Linked DNA regions of Homo sapiens. The protein of the gene in region 2 purifies or fractionates together with the protein of the main gene of each other region. This does not show direct contact. Each region holds a gene or a part of one and is shown on either strand. Other genes may lie near its edges.

Region 1 (3,500 bases), on a different chromosome or scaffold from region 2:
TATTTCTATACATATCTATCTTAATCTCCCCAATTACACTATAAATTCCCTGCGAGCATGATCTATTTCTGATCTATGTTTGTATACCTCACAGTGCCTAGCATAGTGCTTGTATAAAATAGTTATGTAATAAATATTTGTTGAACAAATAAAATAGAAAAAAAAAAAAGACTAGCCTTGGGAAGGGCTATGTTATCCAGATGAAATGATGCTACTTCATAGTAGTAAAGTTAAGTAACATGAAATAAAATTTTTAAAAAATGGAAGATTCAGAACTTATAATACTAATAATTCATCTTAGGTTTCAGTTGTAATTTGTCCTTATTTTAAAAATATTCCCCAGCCTTGATAAATATATACAATTACTATGTTAAATTGTTTTTATTTGTGAAACTGGTTATGACTAGTTTAACATTAAAAATGCTTAAAACTTTGTGTCTGGGGGCGGTGGCTCACACCTGTAATCCCAGCACTTTGGGAGGCCAAGGCGGGTGGATTACGAGGTGAGGAGATGGAGACCATCATGACTAAAACGGTGAAACCCCATCTCTACTAAAAATACAAAAAAATTAGCCGGGTGTGGTGGCGGGTGCCTGTAGTCCCAGCTACTTGGGAGGCTAAGGCAGGAGAATGGCGTGAACCCGGGAGGTGGAGATTGCAGTGAGTCTGGGTGACAGAGTAAGACTCAGTCTCAAAAAAAAAAAGCTTCAAACTTTCTTATTCTATTTCGAAACTATTTGTGTTAACAGTACAGCAGTACTGGCCAGAGGCATGATCATAACTCACTGCAGCCTCAAACTCCCGGCCTCAAGGGATCCTCCTGCCTCAGCTTCTTCTCTAGAGTAGCTGGGATTATAGGCGTGTACCACCACATCCAGTTTCAGTGTGAGGAAACTTTTAATCAAAGTCTTAGTAAAAAAAAAAAAACCTTTTCTGGCTGGGCGTAGTGGCTCATTCCTGTAATCCCTGCACTTTGGGAGGCTAAGGCGGGGAGACTGCCTGAGCTCAGGCGTTTGCAATCAGCCTGGGCAACACAGTGAAACCCCTTCTCTACTAAAATACAAAAAATCAGCCGGGCATGGTGGCATGTGCCTACAGTCCCAGCTACTCGGGAGGCTGAGGCAGGAGAATTGTTTGAACCTGAAAGGCGGAGGTTGCAGTGAGCAGAGATCATGCCACTGCACTCCTGCACTCCAGCCTGGGCAACAGAGCAAGACTGCAACTCAAGGAAAAAAAAAAACAAACAAAAAAAACCTTTTATTTCATAAAACATATTAAAAACACATATTTATCAGTAAGAATTTACTTTAAAAAGAGTGCATTTCTTACCTTAAGTCTAGTTCTTTTGTCCGAAGAAAATTTAAAATGGGTGCAAATGCTGCTGGATCTCTATCAATAAATATCTGTAAAAAAGAGAACAGTTTTATTTTCAAATTACAAATTAATCTTTTAACTTTAATATCTGTAACACTAATAGGGAATGAAGTCTTAATTACTTAAATACTACATTTCCTTGTTTCCACTCTTAAACTTTAATGTTTCTAAAATTGGAATGTAGTCTGTGTGCATTTCATGAGATGGTGTCTTTTTCTTGAGATGGTGTCTTTTTCTTCCTCTGAATAGTTATTATTAAACTGATATTTTAATACATAGAAAAAATCTTGTCTAATAAAATCACTTGTATTGATACCTTTGGTAAAAGTGACACCTGAGGAAACATTTTTATCTGAAACAGTCTAGAATTCAATTAATACTTCGAAAACATGAATAAATAATACTTTCTTATACTGTTCAATCATTAAAACTACAATGTACTTTAATAATGCACACAGGGGTACTTGAGAAAAGTAAATACTGCACACTGCTGTCAAAAGTGGAAAAGAATACTATTCTCATAATACTTTTACTAATCTCAATTTCCTTCAGAGCTGGGGAAAGGTAATGACAATTTTTTTTTTTTAAACTAAAGCACCACAGAATACATAAGAGGAAAACAAATTGCTTAAAAATGTAAAATACATAATTGGTAACTTTTGTTTGTTTGTTTGTTTTGAGACAGCATCCTGCTCTCTCATCTAGGCTGGAGTGCAGTGGCACGATCTGGGCTCACTGCAACCTCCACCTCCTAAGTTCAAGCAATTCTCCTGCCTCAGCCTCCTGAGTAGCTGGGATTAGAGGCACCTGCCACTATGCCGGGTTAATTTTTCTGTTTTTAGTAGAGAGGGGGTTTCACCATGTTGGCCATGCTGGTCTTGAACTTCTGACCTCAGGTAATCCACTTGCCTCGACCTCCTAAAGTGCTGGAATTACAGGCATAAGCCACCCCACCCAGCCCATAATTGATAACTTTTTATGGAAATTTATACCAACACCTATTTTGAATCATTTACAAAAGATCTGGCCATAAAAACGGAACATCTTTTAAAGCTTATGTAAATCAATTAGAAAGGGAAATGGCAGCCAGTAATAAAACTCTTCCTACTATGATCAACTATATATATACAATCAATGAGATTCTTCTAAGCTTTATAAATTTTCTTTTGTTTTCATTAGAGCACATCAAAAATCGAAGAGACATCACAGATTTGTGGAGATCTTATTATTGATAACTTTTTATAATTTCACATGGACATATCTGCATTTGTTGCCTTATTTCATCTGCAAATCTCACCACAGCAAATAAATACCATTGGTCACTTTGTTGCCTCCAAATGGATAAACCAATTTTTTTGCACTGAAACTTTACAATTCTTTCCTTCCCTCACTGTACCAATGCTGTATAAACAAATTCGCAAGGTTATTCTCCAAAATAAAATAAAAAACTGTAGGAGTTTACTAATTTAACCTCTTATATTCTAATATAAAAATATTAGAATATTTACATTTATCCACTTACTGTTAAAGTTTCAATTATTGATCTAAAAAAATTTCTTCTAATGCCAATGTAAGCTCATATCCTACAATCTCTCTAATCATGAATACTTAAATTGCCATATATAGTATTCCCTACTTAGGGATCTTCTCTGATTATAAAAAACTACATATGACAAGAAATAAAATTATGCCACTTTCATTCAGTGATTATTAAAATATCAGTTCTCCTATATTCTTAGAGTAACTATATGTTAGGACCAAGCACTATAAGCATTAATTTAGGAATATGTATCAATTATTATTATACTCACAGCACCAGTTTCATCTCGAAGTGTTGAAATTCTCCCACTCAGCAAACTGGAAGTCATTAATAATCTAAAGTTAGTTTTTAAAATCTGAGTATAAACAAATGTGCTAATTCTTTACCAAATGTTAAAGACCACTAAAAGTAAGTTATCTATCTTCCAAGTTCAAAAATATATAATTTTAAGAGTTAACCTTTTTTATTAAAAAAAATTTAACTGACAAACATTATTATATTTTGGTAAATAAATGTATTAAAATATACACTAAAGAATTATAAGACATACCTGGAAAAAAAAGAATCTGGAATCCACATAAGAGTT
Region 2 (3,500 bases):
GTTCCTGTGACACAGAATGGAAACTCCTAGGCAGTGGTTTTGGTGACTGTTTAAAAACACAAATTCTTAGTCTCACCTACCAGATACCAGTTCAGTAGTTGGGGGTGTTAGTGCACGGCCAGGGTTAAGACCCTTCCCCTGGTGTGTTGACAGGGAACCCCTATAATGTCCTGGACTTCTGTAGACCCAGAGGCATGGAGTCAGGCAGTTTGTGCATGAGCCACGCCCCTCAAAGGAGACTGATAGGGGTCTCAGTAATCTTTTTTTTTTTTTTTTTTTTTGAGACGGAGTCTCGCTCTGTTGCCCAAGGTGGAGTGCAGTGGTGCAGTGACACGATCTTAGCTCACTGCAAACTCCGCCTCCCAGGTTCATGCCATTCTCCTGCCTCAGCCTCCTGAGTAGCTGGGACTACAGGCGCCTGCTACCATGCCCAGCTAATTTTTTGTATTTTTAGTAGTGATGGTGTTTCACCGTGTTAGCCAGGATGGTCTCCTTCTCCTGACCTTGTGATCCACCCGCCTTGGCCTCCCAAAGTGCTGGGATTACAGGTATGAGCCACCCCGCCTGGGCTTTTTGTTTTTTTTTAATGAGATGGAGTCTCACTCTGTCGCCCAGGCTGCTGGAGTGCAGTGGCGTGATCTCAGCTCACTGCAACCTCTGCCTCCTGGGTTCAAGTGATTCTTCTGCCTCAGCCTCCCGAGTAGCTAGAACTACAGGTACACACCACCACACCCAGCTAATTTTTGTATTTTTAGTAGAGATGGTCTTTCACCATATTGGCCAGGGTGGTCTCGAACTCCTGACCTTGTGATCCTCCCACCTCAGCCTCTCAAAGTGCTGAGAGATTACAGGCGTGAGCCACCATGCCCAGCCAGTAATCTTTTTTTTTTTTTTTTTTTTTGAGACACAGTTTCACTCTGTCACCCAGGCTGAAGTGCAGTGGCACAATCTCGGCCCACTGCAACCTCTGCCTCCTGGTTCAGGTGATTCTTGTACCTCACCTCTCAAGTAGCTGGTATTACAGGTGCCCACCACCACACCCAGCTGATTTTTGTATTTTTAGTAGAGATGGGGTTTTGCCATGTTGGCCAGGCTGGTCTCGAACTCCGGACCTCAAGTGATGATCTGCTCCACTCAGCCTCCCAAAGTGCTGGGATTACAGGCATGAGCCACTGCGCTGGCTGGTCTCAGTAATCTTGTGTGCTTGTGTTCTCGGCATTTTCCAGTTGCAAATGAGTCTGGAAAAAAAGGAGAAGAAGAAAAAGAAGGAGAAGAAAAAGAAGCACAAGAAACATAAGCACAGAAGCTCGAGTAGTGATCGTTCCAGCAGCGAGGATGAGCACAGTGCAGGGAGGTGAGCATGTGGCGACTGGCCTCCCTTCTCGTTGATTCACTTGCTCATTCACTCATTCATTCCACAGACATGAACACCTGCCCTGTGCTGGAAGCTGCCAGGTACTGGGCATTCAGTGATGAACACTTGAACATGGGCCCAGTGCCCACAGAGCTTGCCATCTAATGCTAGAGTTCCTTGGAGATGCTAAATGTGAGTGGGTATCTTGGCCATGCTGCTGGAGAGAGACCCTTAATAATGCTGACTTTAGCCTAGTAGGTCTTAGGTAGGTCAGACATCCTGGGGGTGACTCTGTTTCATCTCAGCTTAGGATTCCTTCAAGACTGAAGTGGGCTTTATATAGGCTTTTTTTAATGGACTGATGGCTGATGTGGGCCCATTTTGCATGTCTTCCTGTGGAAGCAGTCAGCTCCGCCGCTGCTGAGTCACTATTTGTCCCTGGAATAGCAGCATGAAGTGAGAGGAGAAGGTGTTCAGGCGTTGGGGCTTAGAAGCGAGGCCCACAGTTTTTCACAGGAAAATTTGATTGTGCTGATGCATTTTTCGGCATAGACAGTCCAAATAGAGAAACGTACTGCCAGGTAACTGCTGGGAGGCGGAAAGGTCACATTGGAGGCAAGAAGCATAGTTCAGCATAAGATATTTAAATTGGACCTATATATATTTTCTTTTTCAATGAGTGTGTGTATTTTGATCTCTTAGATCACAGAAGAAGATGGCAAATTCCTCCCCTGTTTTGTCCAAAGTCCCTGGATATGGCTTACAGGTAGGGATGTGGGCTTCTTGAAAGGAGTGACTGTGGGACTGTGGGATGTGCCACTTGGACAATGTGGATAGCAGGGAGGTGGGCAGTGAAGCCTGGGCTGCTGGGAAACAGGCCCATTCTTATCGCTGAGCACCTTCTTGTGGCTGATGACCCTCTGAGCAGAGAGACTAAACCACCAATGGGGCATTGAGACATTCTACCCATCCCTCTACAAATAATTTACATGAAATGCACACATTTTAAGTGTATAGGTTTTTTTGTTTTTTTTTTTTTTTGAGACGGAGTCTCGCTTGTCACCCAGGCTGGAGTGCAGTGGCGCGATCTCGGCTCACTGCAACCTCTGCCTTCCGGGTTCAAGCTATTCTCCTGCTTTAGCCTCCCGAGTAGCTGGGATTACAGGCGCCCACCACCACGCCCGACTAATTTTTGTATTTTTAGTAGAGACAGGGTTTCGTCATGTTGGCCAGGATGGTCTTGAACTCCTGACCTCAGGTGATCCCTCCGCCTCGGCCTCCCAAAGTGCTGGGATTACAGGTGTGAGCCACCGTGCCTGGCCTAAGTGTGTAGGTTGATGATTTTTGACAAACATAAATCTGCTGGGTTCTTTTTTTTTTTTTTTGAGTAGCAGTGCATCATTATTTTGCCTAGGCTGGTCTCGAACTCCTGAGCTTAAGCAATCTTCTGAGTAGCTGGAAGTACAAGTTCAAGGCACCTGGCTTGACTTCTGTATTTCTGTATTTTTTTTTTTTTTTTTTGAGGTGGAGTTTTGCTCTTGTTGCCCAGGTTAGAGTGCAATGGCGCGATCTCAGCTCACCACAACCTCGACCTCCTGGGTTCAAGCAATTCTCCTGCCTCAGCCTCCCGAGTAGCTGGGATTACAGGCATGCACCACCATGCCCGGCTAATTTTGTATTTTTAGTAGAGACAGGGTTTCTCCATGTCAACCAGGCTGGAGTGCAATGGTGCAATCTCAGCTCACTGCAACCTCTGCCTCCTGGGTTCAAGCGATTCTCCTGCCTCAGCCTCCTGAGTAGCTGGGATTACAGGCACCTGCCATCACACCTGGCTAATTTTTGTATTTTTAATAGAGACAGGGTTTCTCCATGTTCGTCAGGCTGGTCTCAAACTCCTGGCCTCAAGCTATCCGCCTGTCTCGGCCTCCCAAAGTGCTGGGATTATAGGCGTGAGCCACCATGCCTGGCCTCATATTTCTGTATTTTTAACCTTGGGTCCTGTCCTCCATGCTTCTGCATCTCGCTCTTCCTTAACCTATAGTGAAGAGCTAAGCCAGGTGTATTCTTTTCTTTCTTTTTTTTTTTTGAGAGGGAGTCTCGCTCTGTCGCCCAGGCTGGAGTGCAATGGTGCGATCTCGGCTCACTG
Region 3 (3,500 bases), 4.7 Mb from region 2:
GCAGCAGGGAATGGGAAAGAGACTGTAACAAGTGGTGCTACACACCTGTGATGTCAGAAAAAAGGTTAGTTGAGAGAAGTGAAGACCTGACTGCTTGACACTGGAATTATTTTTTTTTAGGTAGGGTCTTGCTCTGTCATCCAAGTGGGAGTGCAGTGGTGCAATCCTGACTCACTGCAGCCCCGACCTTCTGGGCTCAAGCGAGAAGAGGTCACTCTATGTTGCCAGGCTGGTCTCGAACTCCTGGGCTAAAGCAATCCACCCATCTCACCCTCCCAAAGTAATGGAATTACAGGTATGGCCACCATGCGCAGCACTCTCCCCTTTTTAAATAACTGCTATATCGAGATGTAATTCACAAACCATGTTACACTTTTTTTATTTTATTTTATTTTTTTGAGACAGGGTCTTGCTCTGTTTCCCAGGCTGGAGTGCAGTGACGCAATCACGGCTCACTGCAGCCTCAAATTCCTGGGTTCAAGGAATCCTCTCTCCTTGGCCTCCCAAAGTGCTGGGATTACAGGTATGAGCCACCAAGCCAGGTCTCCGTGTTACTCTTTTTAAGTGTTTAACTCAGTGTTTTACTGTATATTCATTAAGTTGTGCAACTATCCCCACTATTTAGAGTATTTTCATCATATCAGAAAGAAACCCTGTACCCATTAGCAGTTACTCCCCATTCCTCCCTTTTCCTTTCCCTTGGCAACCATTAGTCTACTTTCTATGTCTACGGGTTCTATTCTGGATACTTCATACAATATGTGGTCTGTTGTGCCTGGTTTCTCTCAGATTAATTTTTTTCTTTTTCTGAGACAGGGTCTGGCTCAGACGCCCAGCAGGCTGGAGTGCAGTGGCGAGATCTCAGCTCAGCAACCTCCACCTCCTGGGCTCAAGCAATCCTCCCACGTTAGCCTCCTGAGTAGCTGGGAATACAGGTGCACGTGATTACACACGGCTAAACTTTTTTTTTTTTTTTTTAGATGGAGTTTCGCAATTGTTGTCCAGGCTGGAGTGCAATGGCGTGATCTCGGCTCACTGCAACCTCCGCCTCCCAGGTTCAAGTGATTCTCTTGCCTCAGCCTCCCTAGCAGCTGGGATTACAGGTGCGTGCCACCACATCTGTTAATTTTTCTGTTTTTAGCACAGATGGGGTTTCACTATGTTGGCTAGGCTGGTCTCAAACTCCTGACCTCAGGTGATCCACCCGCCTCAGCCTCCCAAACTGCTGGGATTACAGGCATGAGCCACCATGCCTGGACTAATTTTTGTATTTTTTTAGAGACAGGGTTTCACCACATTGCCCAGCTTGGTTTCAAATTCCCCAACTCAAGTGATCTGTCTGCCTCAGCCTCCCAAAGTGCTGGGATTACAGGTGTGAGCCACCTTGCCCAGACCTAGCTTATATTTTCAAGATTCACCTTGGAATTGTGGCTTGAGGAGCAAAAAAAAATGAGCAGAATTTTAGTGGCTCTCTAGCATATGCAAACATTTTACAAATTTGATGCCAAAAGCTGGCTACGAAAAAATACTTATGCCTACTAACCAAATAAGTGAGCTTAGGCAGAGGCCAAAGGAGGGTCATGGAGAACATTTCACTAAAGGGTAAAAGGGAATGAATGGGTTTATTCTGAGGAAATGGAAGATGATATTGTTAAACAATGAACGAATATGTCCAACCTTCTACTGTAAATCTAATATTTTGGTTTTTATTTTTGTCGTTTTTAAAAATTTAATTTTAAAATAGAGACAAGGGCTAGGCACGGTGGCTCACCAGTAATCCCAGCACTTTGGGAGGCCAAGGTGGGCAAGATCATTTGAGGTCAGAAGTTCGAGACCAGCCTGACCAACATGGTGAAACGCTGTCTCTACCAAAAATGCAAAATAATTACTCGTGCGTGGTGGCGGTCACCTGTAGTCCCAGCTACTTGAGGCTGAGGCAGGAGAATCGCTTGAACCCAGGAGGCAGAGGTTGCAGTGAGCCAAGACTGCACCACTGCACTCCAGCTGGGGCAACATAGTGAGACTCCATCTCAAAAACTAAACTAAACTAAACTAAAATAACAAAACAAAACAAAATAAAATAAAATACAGATAAGGTCTTACTATGTTGCCCAGACTGGTCTTGAACTCCTGGCCTCAAGCAATTCTCCTGCCTCGGCCTCCCAAAGTGTTGGGATTACAGGCGTGAGCCATCATGCCGAACCTAATCTAATATTTGAATCTCTATTACATGCAGCCAAACTGATATCTAAATTAACACAATTCCCAAACTTCTGTCTCCAGCCCAGACCTCTCTTCTGAGCTCTTATACTCAATTCTACACTGGATACCTCAACCTAAGATGTCCTCTAGTTGCCTCGGACACAAGTCCAAAACGGAATTTGACCATCTTTCCCCACAAACCCATTTCTCCTCCAGTGTTCCCATCATTCATCCTAGTGCTCATACCAGAAACCTGGAAGTCATCTTTGACCATTCCTGTTGCCCCACATTCAACAAATTACTTTTCTCAAGTACATCCCTCCTCTTTGCTACCTCCATGTTCAAGCCACCATTCTCTCTCTTCATAAAAGCTTTCTAAATCATCACATGTGCCCCATCCAACTCATTCTGCAGGGCACCCTCAATCATCCTTTGGAAATGCAACTCTGGTCATGCCATGTGCCAGCTGCAAACTTTCAACATCTGGCTGGGCACGGTGGCTCACACTTGTAATCCCGGCACTTTGGGAGGCTGAGATGGGGGGGGGATCACCTGAGGTCGCGAGTTCGAGACCAGCCTGACCAACATGGAGGAACCTCGTCTCTACTAAAAATACAAAAAATTAGCTAGGCGTGGTGGTGCATGCCTGTAATCCCAGCTACCTGGGAGTCTGAGGCAGGAGAATCACTTGAACCAGGGAGGTGGAGGTTGCAGTGAGTCAAGATCATGGTGTTGCACTCCAGCCTAGGCAACAAGAGCAAAACTCTGTCTCAGAAACAAAAACAACAACAACAAAAGAACTTTTCAACATCTCCCAGTGCTATTAGAATTGAGCCCAGCTTCCTAATGCCACCTACAAAGCCCTGGCCTGATGTTCTTATCTCATCCCCTACCACTGCCCACTGCTCTCTCTATTCCATCCACACAAGCCTTCTTTCAGTTCCTTCTTTCCCACCCCACAAACCCAACACGGGCTACTCCTCAGGCTGGAACATACTCCCCAACCTCCATCCCATCTCCACTTGACAGACTGAGTCCAATTTATCCTTTGGGTCTCGATTTCCCCAGGGAAGTGACCCACCACAGTCAATTACACTGCCTGTACTTCTTCACATGGCACTGATCATAATTTAATTATTTGGTGATTATTTAATTAATATCCATATCCCCGACTAAGTTGTAGCGCATAAAAGCAGGGATCATATCTGTTTAATTCAAATCGTATCCCCAGTTGCCAAACACAAATTAAATTAATAAGTATTTGTTATGACTATATCTAGTAGCTAATATTTACTGCA
Region 4 (3,500 bases), on a different chromosome or scaffold from region 2:
TCCTGCTGACCAGGGACACTCAAACCTGCCTCAGAGAAGAGACCGGCACCATTCCCAGGGGAGGGGGCACCCCGATCCCGGCCACAGCAAATTCGTGAATGCCCAGTGTGCACTGGGGTAAAAAGGTCATTCAGATAGAAGTAAATTCACGGAGATCTGAATATTCTTTCTAATGATTGTGCCTCTGTTGCTGTTGTTTTAATAAAGAAAATTTTCCTAAGAAGATACAGCATTTCCTAAGAGAATGAAAGCGCAGTGGGAGAAAATAGATTTGCTATTCATAAGATTAGAAGTGCTGTTGATCTGTGGGAGATTATAAGAGACTATTTTCTCCACAGCTTAGCATTCGTCTTTTCACGCTGATATCATGAATCAGAATGAAATGTAAAACTGAGAATTAAGCAAACATTTAGAAGAAGGAGATTGTTCTGTTTATAGAAATCTCCTCTGCCTAGCTGTGGGCTATTAAGGCAGCAGACTACATTAGCAGTCAAGCACCTAAAAGTTTAGCAATCATATGATTAACAAGTTGAAAATAGAAAAGTATAACAAGGAAAATAGAGAGGGAGAAGGCAGTGACCTATATTATAACTAATTACCAAAACAGGAATGCTAACATCAAAAACTGTGGGTGTGGACTCAACAGTTTCGGCATCAGGGCCACCTGCTCGCTGTAGGTGGGGTGGCCACCCGTGACCCAACAGACTCACCTCCTCCATCCTGGTCACCCTGATGTCCGGGCTGGCTGACTGCACCATGATGCGGGGCACGGGCTGAGGAGGCAAGTGTGCAGGTCAGGGGTCGAGAGGACAGAACAGGGGTAGCAGAAAGGTTTCCGCTGCACAGGCTGGAGGGCCAGGACCTGCCCGAGGGGAATCGGCCCATCAGGTGTGCGAGTGTGAGGGGCTCCACACCCTCCAAGGAACAAGGGACCCAGCAAGGGGCTCCTCCCCCAGCCAGGGAAACAGGCCACATGCCAAGATCACCAACACACATGGTGCACTTACACACACGACGCTCTCTCCCTCCCTCCAATCACATATGCACATGTGAACCGAGGACTGGGCCTGTACAGACAAGCATTATGAGACAGGAAAGATACAGAAAGACTTCCGGCAGGAGGTGAAAGCCATGCCAGGCTCTGATGGCTGGGGAGAGGAAGGAGTGTAGTCACAGGAGGGGAGGAGGAAGGAGGCCAGGCTGGCTGGAGCACAAACCCAGAGCCCAAGATGGCAGGCACAGGTCTGCAGAAGGCCCTGGGCATCGGAAACTAACCCTACTCAGGAGAGGAAGGGGGTCCCCACTGAGTCCTGAGCAAAGCAAGAAGACAGCTGAAGGCCAGAGACACTGTCCGGGTGGGGACACAACATGACCGGAAGAATATTTAAAGTCCAAAGAGGCAGATCAGTAATGCAACTCCAGTGACAGAGCAGGGGGAGGAGGTAAGAGCCACAGGAAAGGGCCTGGTTACTTGTGGACACATGGGCCAGGGAACATTAAAGAGACAGAGTTAAGAATCATCAGAGCCAGGAAAAGGGAAGCCTCGGGGAGAGAAGGAACCAGAGCATCATTCTGTTGCTGCGGAGTGGCTGTGGGACACAGAAGCAGCCGAGCAGATGTGCTCATCCCAGAAGAAGCTGGGAACATGCCACTTCTGCCCCTCCCCCTCCCCCTACCCGACTGCAGGAACCAGGCCTGGCCTCCCATGCTGGGCTCTCATGAGGGCTCCATTCTGCCAGGACAGCCGCGGGTAGGGCTTCTTTCTTGTTGGGTCCACAGGGCACAGCTGGTGGCTGCTCGGTTACTGAACTTTAACTGCCCAGAGATGTGGACTCCACGTCTCCCACCTCCCTTCTCCCAGCCCTCGGCAGTCCTGGTGCTTTGGCTCTTGTGCGTCTGGGCACTTGAGGCCTCGATGGAGTCAGGCCTTCTAGACAGAGCCTGCAGGCGCGAGCCACACCGCCCAGGCCTTCCTTCCTACTGGGGAGCCTGGACTCCAGCTGTAGGGAGAAGAGTCCCGAAGAAGCCAGCCCGCTCAGCAGGGTGCTCACCATGTTTACAAGCATGGAATAGCCTCGCTTCACCTGAGGGCACCACTATGACCACTCGTGCCTTGGGGCTGCTTTTGGAAGAAAAGTATAAGAGGGAATTGATTCCACAGAAGGTAAGGGGGCACTGGCAGGATTTGAGAAAAGGTGCAGTGGAGAGGACTCGAGAGGAAACGCAGCGATCAGGCTTAAAGACCTGGAAGGACTGGAGCCAGATGTGGTGGTGCACACCTGCAGTCCCAGCTCCTCAGGAGGCTGAGGCAGGAGAATCACTTAAGCCCAGGAGTTGGAGGCTGCAGTGAGCTATGATCACACCACCACACTCCACCCTGGGCAACAAAGCAAGACCCTGTGTCAAAGAAGAAAAAAAGAAAATAAGGTGGAAGGACCAAGGAAATGAACAAAAGGAATGTGTACTTTACACTGCAACCACTAGGGAGTTCCTGGGGTGGTCTGAGGCCCAGGACAGCTAGGACCAGGGTGCATTAAAGATTATGTGAGCAGCCAATGGGACAGAATGAGGGAGGGTCCCCTGGTGGCAGTTAGGCCATTGCACATGACAAGGCCTGAAGAACAAGACCTTCAGCCTCCACCTCAATTCCTTGACCAGAACAGTCTCCCCTCTGCGCCCCTCCCAGCACTCAGCTCCTTCTGTCCCACTACTGCTCTCCACGGCCCCGCCTACCGCCATCTCCCAGAGAAGAAAGTGAGGCTCAAGCACGCGTCCCACACTGCCACGCAGTCCTCGCATGCCAGGGCTCGTATCTTCATTTTTCTGCCTATAGTATTTAACGTCCCCACAAATGGGAAGGTGTTCAAGGGTATATTTCATGACAAAAGCAGAAAAAACATTTCTCAAACTCCAAAATACTTGCATTCTTCACTACATCTTACCTAAAGTGGACAAGATTGGGGAACAACTGTTTCCACAAAGGTGAAGTTTATTCCCCTTAAAGCCTAAAAATGCAAATACCCCAAGGATGGGATGTTAAGCGCCTAACATGAAACCTTTTCTAAAATCACATGATTCCTGCCCTCTGAAATAGAACATGCAAACAAGTTACACTTTCCTTCAGGACCCAGTGTGATTAGAAAAACCCAGTAGATAGATGCTTATTAAATATTTGCTGAAATGGATTCAGGGACTCGACTGACTGCCACTTTGGTTCTCACTCTCCATGTAAAAAAGTTCAGCTCAACAGAGACTGCACCAGGTCCTACCATGCGGGGGGCGTGGCACCAGGTGCCTCAGGCAACATCAGCATCAGAGGCATGGGCTTTGCTCTCAACAGATGGGCAACCTGATTGGTGGGGAACACATAAGCAAATCACTAAAATCAAGGAAGGTGACAGTGGAGTGGAAGCTTCAAAAGCAGAGAGGAGGCCAGGCACGGTGGTTCACGCCTATAATCCCAGCAGTTTGGGAGGCCGCAGCAGGAGGATCACCTGAGG

What was found.
Region 1: the proteins of CWC25 (region 2) and KCTD3 purify together in Homo sapiens (affinity purification with mass spectrometry, with the first as the bait; one large-scale study listed by BioGRID). This does not show direct contact.
Region 3: the proteins of CWC25 (region 2) and DHX8 purify together in Homo sapiens (co-immunoprecipitation; one large-scale study listed by IntAct). This does not show direct contact.
Region 4: the proteins of CWC25 (region 2) and KIF13B purify together in Homo sapiens (affinity purification with mass spectrometry, with the first as the bait; one large-scale study listed by BioGRID). This does not show direct contact.

What each region holds. Positions count from the first base shown.
Region 1 is NC_000001.11:215,573,804-215,577,303, reverse strand, and holds part of KCTD3 (BTB/POZ domain-containing protein KCTD3), read right to left. Parts: coding exon 3,465-3,500; intron 3,238-3,464; exon of another isoform or gene 3,232-3,237; coding exon 3,186-3,231; intron 1,404-3,185; coding exon 1,330-1,403; intron 1-1,329. UniProt on the Homo sapiens protein: Accessory subunit of potassium/sodium hyperpolarization-activated cyclic nucleotide-gated channel 3 (HCN3) up-regulating its cell-surface expression and current density without affecting its voltage dependence and kinetics.
Region 2 is NC_000017.11:38,808,322-38,811,821, reverse strand, and holds part of CWC25 (pre-mRNA-splicing factor CWC25 homolog), read left to right. Parts: intron 1-1,226; coding exon 1,227-1,354; exon of another isoform or gene 1,355-1,546; intron 1,547-2,056; coding exon 2,057-2,120; intron 2,121-3,500. UniProt on the Homo sapiens protein: Involved in pre-mRNA splicing as component of the spliceosome.
Region 3 is NC_000017.11:43,500,975-43,504,474, reverse strand, and holds part of DHX8 (ATP-dependent RNA helicase DHX8), read right to left. Parts: intron 1-3,500.
Region 4 is NC_000008.11:29,074,571-29,078,070, forward strand, and holds part of KIF13B (kinesin-like protein KIF13B), read right to left. Parts: intron 774-3,500; coding exon 711-773; intron 1-710. UniProt on the Homo sapiens protein: Involved in reorganization of the cortical cytoskeleton. Regulates axon formation by promoting the formation of extra axons. May be functionally important for the intracellular trafficking of MAGUKs and associated protein complexes.